2 separate regions of the Homo sapiens genome follow, and region 2 is linked to region 1. A link means that fine-mapping ties the variant in region 1 to the expression of a gene that starts in the linked region. Tissue or cell type: whole blood. Region 1 holds a variant in brackets; the other region holds the start of a gene. All regions are shown on one strand. Distances are from middle to middle.

Region 1 (8,197 bases):
TACTATGTAATTTGGTCTTGGGAATGCTTCGCTAATTACGGGTGAGGAGGATGGGCCTTGTATGTGACAGAATGATTTAGTGTTCTGTAGTTCAGTGGAAAGAGTGTAGATGTGTTGAATATTTATGACGTTTTACCTTCTCTCTTTGTTACAGAGGCCTTACAACAAATTAAAACATGTGTGTCAGCTCCCTAATTATCTAGCTAGACTTTTAAAGATTGGCTAGTTAAGGCTGAATTTTATTCAAGCACTACTTCATCTGTCATACTATTTTAAGTACATTAGCCTTGTTAGCCTATTATATGGCCATGATCAGTACTGTTTAAATTGCCAACTTCTACAAGTCCCTTCTGTGTGCTCTGGCTCAATCAATGCATTAGTGGTACTAGCTTAGTTTTGTCACAGTTCTGGGCACATTGGCAGTCCCCGGGTGGGAGGCCTGGAGCTCCTGAGTAAACATAGTGCATCTGCCTGGAGCTTCAATTTTACTTGAGGATTTGGAAAAATATAAATTAATCGATTTAACCATTTATTTAATGTGCTCCAATTCTTTATTTAATTGGCTGCAAAGCAAACAAAATTATGCATTAGCTATGTTATGACTAAAACCCAAATGTTGTTGAATACTTTCAGTGATAGAATAACAGCGTGTAAACCCAGAAGTATGACTGCTTAGCTGTCAGATTTCCAGCCAGAAACCGGCTGAGAAAAAAATGTGATGACACTCATCCTGAGAAGTGTTGGGACGGAGCCTCACCTGGCTTCTGGGTGAGGCAGTCCAAAGCCTACTCCCATCTCATGTCAAAGTCCCCTGTCATTGCATAGGAACTCCAGGGACTGTTCAAGAAGGAACAGGAAGCCTCCAACCCAAGGGAAGGGGACTCATCCTGTTGTCAGGTGAGATCCTGAGAAGCATGGGTGAGCTCAGCATGGGCGGGGCCATTGAGGAAGTTCCTCTTTCCTCAGCTAAGCCGCACTGGCCAGGAGGTCCCTGAGTCCTGAGAGCATCCTCCCAGAGCTGTCCAGGTTACTCTCCAGACCTGGTCGTGGCACCTCTCAGCTCCTGGTGCCTGAGTCCCTGCCTTTGACTAGGATCACCATTTATCACCCCCCACTGCACCCATTGCCCCTCACCTGCCCAGTGTGGTGACACAGTCTTGCTCAGGTCCAGTCCTAGTCCTGTGAGAGAGTTTCTGCCCTTGACTTTGGTCCACATTTCCAGTTCCTGTCTTTATGTGGTCCACTGCCAGGACTATAGACGAGTTCAACCAATGAACAATATAAAGTTTGATCTTTCTGTGAAAATAAATATGAATGCAAAATTCACATGAATGCTTAAAATATCAGACCTCAAAGATGAGTGCTGTCTATCTGTGGCCCCTTTGAGCAATCCCTGTGCCCCTGGAGGATGCATTCATCCGCTGCTGTTACAGCGCCACCAGCAGTCACTTTTGAGGAGTGCAGCTCCAAGGGATGACGGTATAAGGGGAAGAATTCAGCCAAAGTGAGATGTCCTCCAGCAAAATCAGAGACAGTGCCCTTCAGAGGGCTCGTGTCCTGCTGGAATTGGGAAATTCCATAAGGCTGCAGATATTCAGCCTCCTAACTGAACTCTATGCAATGCCTTTATCCCCTCCTCCCGATCTGTGCAAAATATCAAAGGAATAAAACCTGTTTTCTTTCTTAGTGGTTGCACCAATTTTGTGCAGTCTGGTTCTTTTCTGTTTTTCTGTAAAATTGTTTTCAGAAGTACTTAAAGTTGTTGTGGTGAAAGTTAACTTTATGATGCTTGTTTTTCGTTTCAAAAACAATAAAGGCAGCTTTGGCTCATGCTGAGAACCTGAGCCAAGATAGCAGGAGATAGGATTCCAGGGCCCTTTCAGCTTCCTTGTGATGACTTGTAAAACAGCACACACAGCCTTGGCTCTATCCTCTTCCCACCCCGCACCCCCTTTCTTAGAAACATGAGGAGCCCAGGCAGTCATGAGAAACCTTTCTGAGCATGAGAGTCTCACTGAACTGAAGGGTCAGAGGATGACTAGGCCCCCCCTTGTCCTGGACAAACGGCTGCTGTCCCAGTGTTTTCCTCCTTGCTCCTAGGATGGGGGCTTTCAGGATACGTTTTGGGTGGGAAGAGATGCACCAGAAGGCATCCCTAATTTGAGGTGGGGCTGTGATAGTCTTTGCTTTAGCCAGGCCAGTTCCAGACCTGATGCAATTAATCCTGCATTAAGGTCGAAGCTGCTGACCCCTCTCAGAGGGCCCCTCAAGTTCTACCTCTTCAAAATATAAATATCAGTCCCAGAGCCTGATCTTTGGCTCATATTTCCTAGAGAAAAATACTTGAAAAATTTGCAGGCATGTACTTCTGTGCTCATTTCAATTCTGAAGGTGAATTGGCATGGTGTTGGTTAAGGAGGACCCTGTCGTTGATTAGAATGGTCACCTTAAGTAAGGACTTGTTCCTAGTGCCTGGCTCTGTGACAAGCATCCCCAGCCTGCCAGTGACACAGCATTTGTGTATCCCTTTTTGTCCTAAACCAGAGCTCATTCTTGTACCATATGTATAAAGACTGATACTTTGCAGATGGAAATTCCTCCCTGAGACAGAGACAGATCATCTGCCCCCCTCCCATATGGCTTAGGAAGGGCAAAGAAAGAGCCAGAGGAAGCAAGCTTAGAAAGTGAGAGCAAGGGAATCGGGAGAGAACAATTCAAAGACAGAACTGGGAAGCAGGTTTTAGAAATAGGAGGTTGTTGTCAGAGACCCAAGGGAGACATATGAGGGAGCTTCCTGGGTGTTGATGTGGCCTGAATCTTTACACTGGGCCTGGTGTCTGGGAGAAAGAGCCGTCCGTGCCTTCAGGGATGAGAGGCTGAAGGAAAAGCCTGGCTGCCTGCTGTGCGGATGCAGTGAAGATGTGGGGTAGGGTGGGGGCTAGAGAGAGAAAGCAAACTGGGATTAAGGAGAACATTCAGCAAGCCAGGCAATGCTGGGCTCTGCAAAGATCTGGGACCATCTCTGTATTTGGTGTCTGAATGTTCTCACAGTTTAATAAGGCAGTTCTTCCACCTGGATTGGAATAGGGTAAGTGCACACCCTTTCCTTCTTCCCTGCCATCCCCAAGGAGATGCCACAAGGATACCCCACTTTGGGACATAAATTCTAACATACTTGATTTTTTAAAGATCAGTGTCATCACCCAAAAGTTATGCTTGCTGTGTTCATGGTCTGCATTTATGCTCTCTGAATTTGCCTTGTCAAAGCCCGGCTTTTCTCCAGAATCCCACTATGGCAGGAGATCAAGGGAGGGCCTCATGCTCTCCAGCAAATGATAAAATTCCACAGCGAAGCTTTCCCAGCATCATCCAGAAAGAACCCAGAATTAGCTGGGTTCTGACAACCATAGCACATGTCCCCA[C/T]ACAGGCTGTGCACCTTGACTGAGCAACACCCCTGTCCTCGGCCAGCAGAAGACTCGCTTGGCCTGGTGTGGGCAGAAAACATGCCCCAGGCTTTTCTCTTGGCACAGCTTGCTTGGAGCCCTCTCTGCTCCCCCAGAGCCACAGCCCTGCCCCTCGCCCCAGTGATGGTGCTGTGGTTTGCTTATTTTGACATATTCGTTCCTAACACGCTGAAGATGAAAGGCAGGAAATGTGCAGTTCCAGTTCCCATAGCAGCAGTGGTTGGACCACGTTGCGTCACATTTACAGAAGGGTCATGGGATCCTGAAGGCAAACACAGCATAGGCTGACCTCAGGCCCAGGGGCTGGCCTGGCACAGCACATGCTGGGCGCTGCCCGCCCCTAGATGGAATCCCTCCTCACCACGGACTGACCACAGCCTGGCTCACTCCCACCACTGTCTGTGACTGAAGCCACCTCCTCACAAGGTCACTCCTCTTGGGGCTCCCCACTGTCCCAGAGAGAGCCCACTTCCTCCCAGACCACTCCCAGTCCTGGCAGTGTGACTGCTGCTGAGTGACGAATATGGAACTCTCCCTGCCTTTCCAGTTCTCTTCGAGCAGGAAGTGCCTCCAGATCTTTGGGGCAGAGATTGGAAACCCCCAGTATTCTAAAAAAGTGGCAGAACTTGACCCATCAAGACCCAAAGGGAAAAAAAAGCCAAGGCCTTGCTGTTTTCCCTCAGTGACCATCGGCCCTTCCTGCAGTCCCCAGCCAGCTAGATGATTCTTCTCTAAAACACGCCATCTTTCCCATAAGATATAACTAAGCATCACTTCCACCCACACTCAGGATGTTAAGACATTTGAAGAATAATTTGTTCTAGACCCGAAAAAAACCTTGCAGGAAGAATTCCACTTCCCTTCCTCCAGGTGTGTGCCATGTGGCTTGGTTATGGGGGCAGTGGGGGCTGTAACTGGCTTCGTATGTGGCCATTTCCTGCCTTTGGTGCAGTTAAACCAAGCCCTGGGTCATTAGGCTGCAGGAATACCATTTGTGCATTTCATTTCCTTGGGGATGATTTTTTAAAGTGGCTCTAATGCACCTGATCACACTCAGATGTGTTCCCAGGGAAGTAGGCGATTTGAGAGTGCAGTAAAGCCAGCTCGCATGTGCCCAGATCCAGCTCAGTTTCCTGTTCAACAGAAGCCACTAAAGACAGGTACTCAGGGTTGATAATGTCCTTTTGTGCCTTTGTCTGGGGCAGCTCATTAAGGTAGAGACACCTCAGCGCTGACAGGACAACCCCTTCCTGTGTGTTCCAGGGAAACCTAATTGACTACAAAACCTTTTTTTTTTTTTTTGATGTTACCACTGCCAGATACAAATCCAATTAGCAGCAGAGTTAACTCAGATGAATCCTGGAAACACGGAAATACCACATTCTACAGCTAATCAGACCCGTGGAATGATGACACATCTGGATGTCATCAGGAAGGTGGGATTCTGAGGACAATAGGAGACTGGATGCTCTCAGAGCCCACATGTTCCACTGATTTCAGAGCCCCCTTCTGTGGGTGAATTACAAGGACTTCGAGGATTAACAGTCGGAGGCCAGCTTCTGTCTGCTCAAGGCCTCTGGGTCTAGGAACATCATCGCTTTATTCTGAGGCCAAGAGATATTCAAAAGAAGTCACTAAGGTCTTATTTCCAGTAGAGCCCCTTGGTCCCTCCACAAATCCCTCCCTACAAATCTGGATGGATTTAAGAAACCCTTTGTTTCTTGTTATGTGACCCTTCTCCCAGAGACTTGGGAATCCTGTATTCTGACTCTCCTGAGAGTAGAAGCAAACTAGTAATTTCAAGGCACAGAGGGATGCTCTGGCCCTCCCTGACCTCCCTTTAAATAATTAATGTTGCCAGGCAGGTGCTAAAAGACTAGGCAGAGAGAAAAATGCCAATGCAAAAGGGCAAGTGCAAAAGGAAATACCTGCCTGGCCTTTGAGTGATCATGATGGTGACTATTCACCATTGCAATGTGGATTGTAATGTTGGAAGACACTCCAGGCTCTGGGAACCTTGCTTTTAGTAATAAAAGCCCCATTTAGAAGTAACCAGGTAGCTAGAACAGCAGGGCTAGAATCAAACCGATCAGAAGCCACGCAGGAGGCTTGTGTGGGGGCTTCTCAGGACATCAAGTTTCATCCTGATTGGTGGCCTTGTTGTTTCAGAAGTCCTCACTTGCCCACAGAACAGGTTTCTCCTCAACCTACTCGCCTGATTGGTGGGAAAACCCCCACTGGTAGAAGTGGCGGCTGTCAGGGTAGGAGGGCAGAGGCTGGTGCAAGATTTGGAGGCTTTTATCCTTCTTATGTGATGTGTGATATGCTTGGTTCATCTAAGTGTAGTGGGTCTACTCTGGCCTCAGACAGGCGGAAAGCATATGGAGATAAGCAGGGTGGAAGTCTCTGGAATCAAAGCCCAGGGGTCTGGGAAATCAGCTGGAGCTCTCAGATGTAAGCAGCAGAAACGAACAAGGGCTGTTTTCAGCAGGCAGTATCCATCACAATTACCTTAGGTATTTACTTTACCCTTCTACAAGCCTCAGAATATTTCAAGGCCCCCTTTACTATCTCTGGTGGATTCAATGGCTCAGCATTCTTCATAGCCACAGGCTTTCATGGACTTCATGTTATTATTGGATCAACGTTTCTCACTATCTGCCTTTTCAGTGGAAAAGGAGTGTATTGAATGGCTATGGGGTGGCTCAGAGTCAGCGAGGGCTGCAGCGTGAGCTTGGAAAACAGCAGGAGGGCTCTGGCGCAGCCAGGCTCATGGGCAGAACCACACCAGAAGCCTAGGGCCGGGAGGGCTCTGGGACGCCTGCTGTGGGTTCCTGGACATCACAGTCCCCTATGGGTACCGCTGGTGCTGGGCCTGGCCACCGTAGGGGAACAGCTACCTCCAAGGCCACTGAGGACACAGGGTTCCACCCCCTGCAGCCCCCTGCCATGGTGGTCCCTCGTTGTTCCTGCCACTCTCAGCTCTGGCATCTCACTTAAGTCTGTGTGTCTCTAATTGGCCCAGCTCAACCATGTGCCTGTGCCCCACGGCAAGGTGTAAATATCCACGATGCCTGAATTCCGATGCAGAGCCCACACTCTCCAGGAGGAAAGCTACTGATTGCTCTCTTTATCACCAGCGGACTACAATGAAGACTAAACGAGACAACAGCCTGGCCCTCATGAGGCTGTCCTTTCCTGCCCCTACCGCCCAGCTCCTTTGGTCCAAGCACCAAATTCCGCTTGGTGGATATCCAGGCCCTTCACTTCACTTCTCTTTCTTCCTCAGGCTGTTGTTCCTTCTGTATCTCTCCTTAGGGCCTCCATAGGGAGGGAAGGGGGCATGAGGTAAAGTCCTGTGCCATTGCTCTCCAGTTTACAGCGAGGCAGGTGCAGCTAGTGGCCAACTGATGGCCACAGCAAGGGTGTTAACTGGTTAGAAAATGCCAAGCACCTGCCTCGGAGCTCAGTCCCCACCTGTGAAATAAAGCTGCAGCCAGGGTCTGGGGCTCACACGGAGGAGGAGGGTCTCCAGCAAGGAGGTCACCCTTCAGATGCAGGACAGAGCAGCAGAAGCCAGGCGGAGTTCCACCCTAAGCAAGGTAGGAAGAAAACGGAGTGGGCTGCAGAGCACTGGGAGTTTTTTGAAAAATTATAACAAGACTTCTTTGTTTATCTTCTCCCTGGCTTCCGCAGCCGGTCTGAGTCGGGATAAATTCAGCACAGGAGGAAAATGCAGCATTTCCTCCCCCTCTCCTCCCATTTTAGGTGAGAGGAGGAGGTGGCATGGGGGATAGAGAAAGATCTGGCAAGCTCGCCAGCTGGCACTGCGGCTGGGCTGAACACAGCGAGCTTGCTCTGCGCCCCCACAGAGCGGGGCCCAGAGCAGAAATGCGGAGGTATCCTCTCTCTTTGCTCCCCTTCCACCATCTCCTTAGAAGTCAGGTTGGTCTCAGGCATAGAGGGGGTAGGTAGCCCCTTGCTCAGTATGATCCAAGCGTCCACACACCTGCAGGCCCCTGCAGAGCCCCAACAATCAGGCTCATGGCACGCAGCTTCTGGGGGGAGCCATGTTTTTAAGAGTACACCGTTGCTTTCAGAAAGACCCATTTAAAATGCAAACCGGTAGCTTGGGAACAGCAATATATGACAAGCTCAATCCCCTCACGGAGTTGACCATCATATTACTAAGGGATGGCTCACGCGACAGTTCTAAGGATGGGAGCTGGAGATATTTTGATGCAAGTGAGGACATGCAGTGGTGGGTGCCCTGGGTGTAGGGATCACATGAGGGGCTTGGATAAGAAGGGGCACCAGGAAGATTAGTAGGAATAAGGAATGAGGTTGGAGACAGGGATTGTGAGCACGAGGCCTCTTCACCCCCTTAGGCTTACACTTACAGAGCCTCGCCTCTCCCTAGCATAGGGAAGAAGTTGGAAAGCTTTGGATACTGCTGTCCAAAACCCAAAGACCTTTCACAAGAGCCTGGGTCTGGACAACATGTCTGGTCTCCTCCCGATCCCTGTGTTGATGGCGGAGAAGGTGGTGTGATGACAGAGGCCAATGCATTCTGTAGGGGAGAAGGGACTCCCCTAGGAGCTGGATCTAGGGACAGACTTAAGCAGCATTTTATTTTTTGTATCAATTTCATGCATGGTTTGTTTGTTTTAAAATCTGGTTCAAGGCATTGTAGCTATGAAGACTCAGTTATTACTGAGCCTACACTGGGTGGG
Region 2 (8,197 bases), 230 kb after region 1:
TCCCAAATGAGACTGTAAAATCTTTCAAGATTGGGGTCTGGTTCTTCTATCCCAAAATAAAACTAATATGCATTAAAAATATGTTAAGCAGCAAAGGTGATTAACAGTGAGGATGAGAGATAAAACAGTCTTAACTATTCAGCTTAATTTAACAAGTATTCGAGTTCCTATAATATACTTAACAGGTGAAAAAAATTAAATGTATGCAAATACAAAATCAGGTAATGTTAGAGGCTCCACTTTTTAAAACTAAGTCACCAACTCCCTATAAAAAGAACATTTCTTAAATTTATAAAAAGCCTGAATGGAAAGAAAATGTAAAACACAAAGCAAATAACTAGTCTAGACTCTACTGCTGGACTGCACTAACTAATCAACCAAGATACAAAAGATAGGGCCCTGGCAGTCGTTACTCTGGGGAGCCTCAGGTATAAACTCTGCTGAGCTCTGACAAATCCTGTTGATCTGGTTAGGTCCCTGCCTCTAACTCTTTTCACTACCATCTCACAGAACTTTATTGCTCCATTGCTCTTCTGTTCTAAGTTGGTCATTAAGAGTAAATATGAAGGGACATGAGGCACTTCTGACTAAGACCAACTAGTTAAAGGTAGTAAAATCTAAAATAAAATCCATTTCTTCTAACCCTTAGGTACATCTCTCAACATACACAAAAAGCTATTTTGTATTGGGCGAGTTTGACCCAATCTCCTAGCATTTATCTTGAATACAACAGTTCTCAAACTTGAGTGAGCATAAGAATCACAAAGGGAGTCACTTTAAAATCCCCTTCCCCCATGTCTTTGGGCAAAAGAATCTACATTTTTAATAGACATCCCAGATGACTGATGAGTGGTGTACAACCACTTTTAAAAACAGCTGCTGCTCTATCACTACTTAACAAATAGCCTCTGCACTCAAGAGTGCTTTGTTTTATAACACAGAAACGTTCACACTGTAACAAACTGGATTTTGGGAAGTGAATTCTATTTTCCCATAAGTAGACTTTAAAATTTTAAAGATACATTATTCATTTTGAAGGCTGGGAGTGATTTCTTATACTTTCTTCTATAGGCCACATTCCATGCTTTTCCCTTCCTCATCTTCACCACAGTGGTTAAAGATTTAGAATTTAGAAATCCTTTTAAAAGAGCATTTTTCACCCCAATTTATCTTTTTTATTCGTCAGGAATGCGAGTATTTGAAAAGTTGACTTGTAAACCTTACTTCTGAAACCACACCTTGAAAATGCCAAATATCTCTTTAGGAAAGAAAATGTTTGTACCAAAAAGGTCCACATTTAAGGAAAATGCTGCTATTAAATAATGCTTAGATACAAGGTACTGAGAAACAGCGAGAATTTTATTATTTTTCAGAAAAAGAAGACACTTTTTTAAAGTACCTATGGAGGATCATCACCAAGTAAGAAATGGCACTTCTAGTAATGCACTTGGGCACAGTAAACACAGTCCCAGACTGAAGCCTGGTGAAGTGAATTCTAGGCTCAGTTTTGCCACAAAAGAGCCATGTGACTTTGGGAAACAACCTCTCTGGGTCTAAGTTTAATTTATAAAATAAGATAGTTAAATAAAAGTAACACTTTGATTCTAGCAGCTTAATTCACTGGGAAGTATTTACCTCAAAAAGCATTTGAGGTATGTAACACCTCTAACGTGTTTGATCAAATGACATAATTAAAACTGAACTGGAAACTTGATATTGTGAATAACTTACTTAGGCTGTTCTCGTAGCTATCAATTACATATCATTGTACTTTGCTTCTTCAAAAAAGCTGAATACTTTGAACGTCTAATGTTCACATATTGAGTTTTCTTAAAGTCAGGTACGTATGTACCATAGTCGTTTTGTAAAAGGAAAGAATGTATCTTTTCAGTCCTTTTTCCCAACCCATTGTCATTGCAGACTGAGAAAAAAACAGCTTGAAGTCTTAACCACCAAAAGCAACAGTGCTGCAGTAATTACACCACAAAAATAACATTTCATTCTTAATGAATACTCAGTCTCCTGAGATTACAGTTATCTTCTGGTAACCAACTTTATTCTGTCTGCTCTCATTCGTTAGTGCAAACATTTTCAATTTTAACCCATATTCAGTTCACAAATCATACTTATTTCCAACGGAATATACTGAGTCCAAAAAAAAAATTCCCCAATAGTCCAACAGGAAGCAACACATGCATTTGGCAATTCCAAGGAGGCTGGGGACTCACAGATACCTCGTTCAAAATAAATAAACTTTCCAAGGATTTATTTACCGACGGGAAAGGCAGGTTTGAAAACAACCAGTTAACTTCACTCCCAAGTTGGCATCTTAGAGAATCTTTGTGCGTTTGCAAAACACCCAGGACCTCTGAGCCTCCCAGCCGAGAATTGGCCAGGGGAGCACACGCCCATCGGCCCTGCCGGGAGAGGAAACAATGGGAGAGGCGCGAGGGAGCAAGCCGGCGCCCCGGGCGCCCCAACTCTGCGGCCCCGGCCCGCCCCGACCCCACGCGCCGCGCCCCCTCCCCGGGCGCCCAGGCCCCCCAGGCCCCCGCCCCCGAGCCCCGGGACGCGGCCCACCTGCGGCGGCGCGGGGAGACGGCTGCACTTACCAAACAGGGTCAGGGCCATTGTAAAGGCGCTCGCCGCCGCCCGCGAGTCCAGGCGCTCCTCCCAGGCGGGCTAGGGATCACCTCATCAGCCCGCCGCACCCACACCTCGGAGAGAGTGGGGTGCCCGATGGGGCGTGCTGGGGGCGCCGGCGCCCGGGGAGGCTGCAGGCCGGGACGCGGGGGACCGCTGCAAGAAAAAGTTATTCACGCGTTATTGTCGGGCGCACCGGGCCCAGGGAGCCCCGCTAGCTCTCCGCGAGCCGGCACTTGTCGCTGCCATCAGGCGCGGAGCGTGCGCGCGGGAGGAGGTACCTGCGAGGCAGGAGGCTTGGCCGCGGCGCAGTGGCTGGCGGAGAGGCGGCGCCGCACTGGCGGCGGCGGCGGCGGCGACGGGGAGAGCAGCAGCAGCCTCGCACAGCCCCCGGCGGGGCGCGCTCACTCCGCATCCCGCGGCCTCGCAGACGCCATCTTGCGATAGCGTCTCCCACGAGCTCGGCCGCGCCGCTGCCTCCCGCCTCTCCCTCGGGCTTCCCGGTCGAGTGCGTTCCCATGGCAACGGGCGCGCGCGGGGGTAAGAGGGTGCGCCCTCATTCCCGCGGCTGCGAGGAGCCACCAGCGCCCCCCTGGAGGCGGCCGCCCGGAGCGGGATGGAGCGGGGCCGGTGTGCGTTTTAGCTGAAAGCCCAGGTTTTTTCTTGAATGGAATTTGAGGAGGCGCAGAGAGGAGAAAAACGCTGTTACTCGAAAGAGGAAGAGTCACAGGAGGATGCTGAGTGAACGCAGCGCCCAGGCAGGGTCATCTGGGGACCTGGTGCGTGTGAGAACATATTTCTTCTCCTGGCGCCCTCCAGGCTCACTGTGGCTGGAGCCGGTGACCTGAAGCTGCAGGGCTCTGGTAGGAACAGAGGCACTGAAAGCTGCATTCCTCTCCGTTTGGACTTAGGAGCTGCTAGTAGTTCTGATGAAATTGACACACATTAGGAAAAGGAGTCGCTTAAAAAGCATCTGAGATTACCTAAGATAATTTGTTAAAAGACCAATGCTTACACCTGATTTTCTTCCCTTTACATTATACCTCTTTGATATTGTCTCAAGGAAAAAAAAATCAGCATGTGTCACTGACTGGCACTTATTTGCCACAAAAGATTGTTCCCCTGAGCTTCTTGTATTTATCTGATAATCACTGGCAACGTCCTCCTTTCTGTGATGTTGTCTCCTCACCTCTGTCTCTGCCATGAGGAGCCATACAACGCCTTGAGATTGTCAGCCAAAAGATGTTCTTGAAAAGCTGGGTTATATGTTTTTCGTCGTTGTCGTTTAATGTATTCAAAAAGTCATTCTTCTCTAGTTGCTATATGTGTTCCCTGTTTAAGAAATTCCTTCTTTTTTCTTGTTTCTCTGCTTAGGGATTTGATACTATTTTGGTATCTGATCATGTAGATCTTCTCTTTGGTTCTCCTTTCTTTCTACAGGCGTCTTTCCTCTTAGTTCCTCAGGTTCCCTAGTGTCTTCTCTCCCATTTTCAAATAATTCTTTAAGAATATTATAGAAATATCTTGTATTTAATGTATCTTAGAGATCGAATCCTGATAAAGTGGGAGATTACTACAGTACTTCCAATGGAACCACAGTTAATTCACCATCATTATTTCAAAGCAGACTTAAGCATCAGAAGAAAAGCAGGTTGGAAGGAGGAGCCAAGCCTTTTGTTTCAAGTCAGTTAACTCAGGAAGAAAGAAATATTAAAATGATTCAACATGAATGGGCAAGTGTTTAAGATGCTATATGTTTGGAATTTTGTGATGTAAAATGGCTCTCTTTAGCCACTAATCAAAATACATCTTTAAAATCCCCAGAATTTAAAATCTTTCATGAAAATGGACTCTTGATTTTGAACAACCTTTCTGCTCATAAAAAATTACAAACACACAGCTCATGAAAATAAATGAGAAACTCAAGAAAGCTTTGTGGGATAGATTTTATAACCATATAAAGATTGCTGCTAATCTGCTCTGCAGCCAAATAAATCAGAAACCGAAGACTCCATTTACTGTTTCAACTAGTGGTCTTCAACATTTTTGGACCAAATTTCCTTTTGAGGCTCTAATGAAAATACTGTCCCTCCTCTTAGAAAAGTGCTTGCATACATACACACATTCACCGGAAATTTTTCACATAATTTCAAGGGGATTATGGGCTATTCAGGGACCTTAGGTGAGCCCCTGGAAGTGTTTTTTGTAATCTCAGAAAGTTTTTGCCTTTATAATTTAAAGGAAAATATTTTCCTTCAGAATAGAACCATTGAATTTTGAATAGGAAAAGACCAAAACTCCCATGATTTATAGGTAAAAAAATTGAGTTCCCCGTAAAAAGATTTTCCCAAATGTGTTCACCTATTTAGTAGCAGAACCAATGGGAAAATCTTAGATTTCTGGTGTTCTCACCGACCACCTTCCCTACCCACATCCCGCATCAATTTAGAGGTTGCATGGTTTGAATTTCAAAAGAAAAATCTGTTTAGTATTAGAAGCAAAATAACGAGAGTATTTTGTCCTTAGCCATTCTGCATAGAGTTTGGGAAGTTGCATTTTGTCTCAAAGAGTTTTTATTAACATGCCCTTCTACTCAGAACTATGTGTCCCATCATGCTAAAAGAGAAACAATGCCTTTCTCTCCTCTTTGTTAAGCTCTGTTAGAGCATCAAGGTTTTGGTGCTGCAGCTCAGCTTGCTAGTAGCTCTCTCCATCCCTTGAGGGGTTGTCCTGGGAGTGAGACAGAGAGAAAGGAGCTGCCCTGCACTCAGATTTACCCTCCCATCATACAGCCGGCCTTTGGTTACTAGACCAGCTTTCCACTCACTAGTTTGGCCAAATACAACTGAATCCTAGTGAAATACCCTGCTTAAACTCAAGTGAAGATCCTTTTCCTCTCCCCTTTCTACTCGCACACCCACGTACACACACACACACACAGCTGTTTTTAAGGTACAATTTGGAACAAAACAGTGTGAATGTTGCTATGTTTCCCTTTAAAGCATCCTGCTTTCCACGAGCCATTCCTTTCAACTGACTTCCAAATGGTTTGATGCTCTAACAAAATGCTCTCTATACTTGATCAAAGTGCCTGTCTTGGAAATAGTATTGGCTTTTAAAATAGCGTATTTTTTTCAATGAGCTATTCCTATTCTATTGCATGTGCTTCTTTTCTCACTTAGCTGAAAATAAAGCCACAGCCTTTCAGCTACAGAGTCAATGCAAGGAAGGGCGTTAACTGCTTGGAGGTGATTATTACGGGTGGTGACTTAGATTGTTTATAAAAGAAGGGCAAAGAATGAATTGACTTCTCAAAATATTTATGTTTTCATTCAATGATTTCATTTTGTGCTTAACATGCAAGTGCTTAGAAGAGCCAGATTTGTTTATTCGTTACTAACTAGCTGTCAGATTTTTAGACAAATGTTTTACTGTTTCTAGTTCTTATCTTCCTCCTTTGTAAAATGAAAGGATGGTACTAAGGTATCTCTAATGTCCCTTTTAGGTTTATCTGTCATTGTGTGATATTTTAAAATCTTTAAATTAACTGGTTTATGGATAAAACAGAGGACATTTTTATTTGAATCTTCAATATATTTAAAGTGCTGTTATATCTAAAGTTCATAAATACCTAATGTAATAAAGAAGTCATATTTTGTCAAACCAGTGGTACTGCTATTTCTTCTGCAATGTGTTGTACTAATAATGTTATATTAATCATGTAGAAAGCAACCTTTTTCTGGTTTAACAGGATTAAAATTAAAAGTGTGCACTGAACAACCCATTTCAAATTTACTAAAACAATTTCTCATTTTTATTTAAGTTTTGTTGACTAAACAGAACCTAGACAACCCTTTAAAATGGTTTTCCTACATTTTAAACTAATGACTTATCACAAGTGTTTTGAATTTCTTTTTGTTACCCATTTAGCTTCATTCCCATTGGTAAACATTGATTTGTTCCTCAGTTTTCAATGAAGCAGAAATTAATGAGGCGGTTTCTGCCTCACAATAACAAGTTAAAATTATAGTACTTTGTCATGTCAACACAGCTTTAAACACTAGGAATACCAGTGCTATTAGCACAGTTCCCAAAATAGTGCAGAAGTTTGCTAGTGAAGAGAAAAATGTTACACAGTATACTTCTGCTAAAGTTAAAATTAAGAAAGTTAAAATTATTTAAATATTCACAATATGTGACATTCTCTCTATCCCATATTTATGTTACTAGTTACAGTGTTTGTTTCCACTGTGTGAATTTGTTTAAAGTGGATTTGTTTTTGTTTTGAGACAGGGTCTCACTCTGTCACCCAGGCTGGAATGCAGTGGCACAATCTCAGCTCCCTGCAGCCTTGAGTTCGTGGGCTCTAGCAATCCTCCTACCCCAGCCTCTGGAGTAGCTGGAACCACAGGTGCATGCCACCACACTCGGCTAATTTTTGTATTTTTAGTAGAGACAGGGTTTGCCATGTTGCCCAGGCTGGTCTGGAACTCCTGAGCTCAAGCAATCCACTCCTCTCAGCCTCCCCAAAGTGCTGTGATTGCAGGCATGAGCCACTGTATCCAGCTATTTGGTCTGTTTGGTTTTTTGTTTTTTTTTTTTTAGACGGAGTTTCACTGTGTCACCCAGGCTGGAGTGCAGTAATCTCAGAGCTGACTGCAATCTCTGCCTCCCAGGTTCAAGTGATTCTCCTGCCTCAGCCTCCTGAGTAGCTGGGATTACAGGCATGAGCCACCACACCTGGTTAACTTTTTGTATTTTTTAGTAGAAATTGGTTTCACCATGTTGACCAGGCTGGTCTTGAACTCCTGACCTCAAGTGATCCACCTGCCTTGGCCTCCCAAAGTGCTGGGATTACAGGCATGAGCCACCGCGCCTAGACTATTTGGTTTGTTTTTAACAACGTTTTCCTTAAACACTTAATTCCGATTATTTTTTACCCCCCTTCTTGTTTTTTATCTCAGACTTTCTGAATTAATAACTTACCTGATATTTGTGTGGCATTCCATGATTTACAAATAGCACTTTCACAGGACAAAGACATATGCACACAAGTAACTAAGGCAGCACTTGCCTCAAACATAAGGATTTAGACCATAACACTATTTATGACAAAAATAATATTTATGTCATAAACTGTAAAATTGCCCGTTAAGCTTAAATAACTCAATGTTTAGGAGAATTATTTGTGTTCTGTTCACCACCAGAGGGTGCCTAAATTATAATAGTAATATTGGGCCTTAGAAATGAAGTAAAACTCAATTTGAGAAATACATAAGAAACCTTAAGAATTTAAAACTTTCTCAGTTCCCCTACACAGTGCTTGCTATAGTAGCAGAAGATAGTCACCAAAAATATGCTAAAATGAGAGGTGGCTATCATCTGGCTAGGCGCAGATTAGGAATTGGATTATTACTGAGGAAACACTGCTCAGCTCTTATTATATCACTTCCGAAGTAAAAAGAAAATGTGTTTGTAGAAGCTGTGTGTGTGTGTGTGTGTGTGTGTGTGTGTGGGTGTGAAGGGAGGGGAAATTGGAATTGAAAATCAGAAC

The links. PIP is the estimated chance that this variant, and not a neighbour inherited with it, causes the effect.
Region 2: CHN1 starts here. The variant in region 1 is fine-mapped to the expression of CHN1 in whole blood (TOPMed, PIP above 0.99).

The regions. Positions count from the first base shown.
Region 1 is chr2:174,774,971-174,783,167 of GRCh38, forward strand. No RefSeq gene overlaps it. Among named protein-coding and RNA genes, the nearest start is that of CHRNA1, 15 kb to the left of the region's middle. RefSeq lists an enhancer at 7,077-7,684. The variant C/T (reference allele first, on the strand shown) is at 3,423.
Region 2 is chr2:175,002,282-175,010,478 of GRCh38, forward strand. CHN1 (chimerin 1) reads right to left here and starts at 3,100. Exons shown (of 13, transcript NM_001822.7): 1 at 2,613-3,100. The coding sequence starts at 2,631. RefSeq lists an enhancer at 2,270-2,816 and a silencer at 2,801-2,860.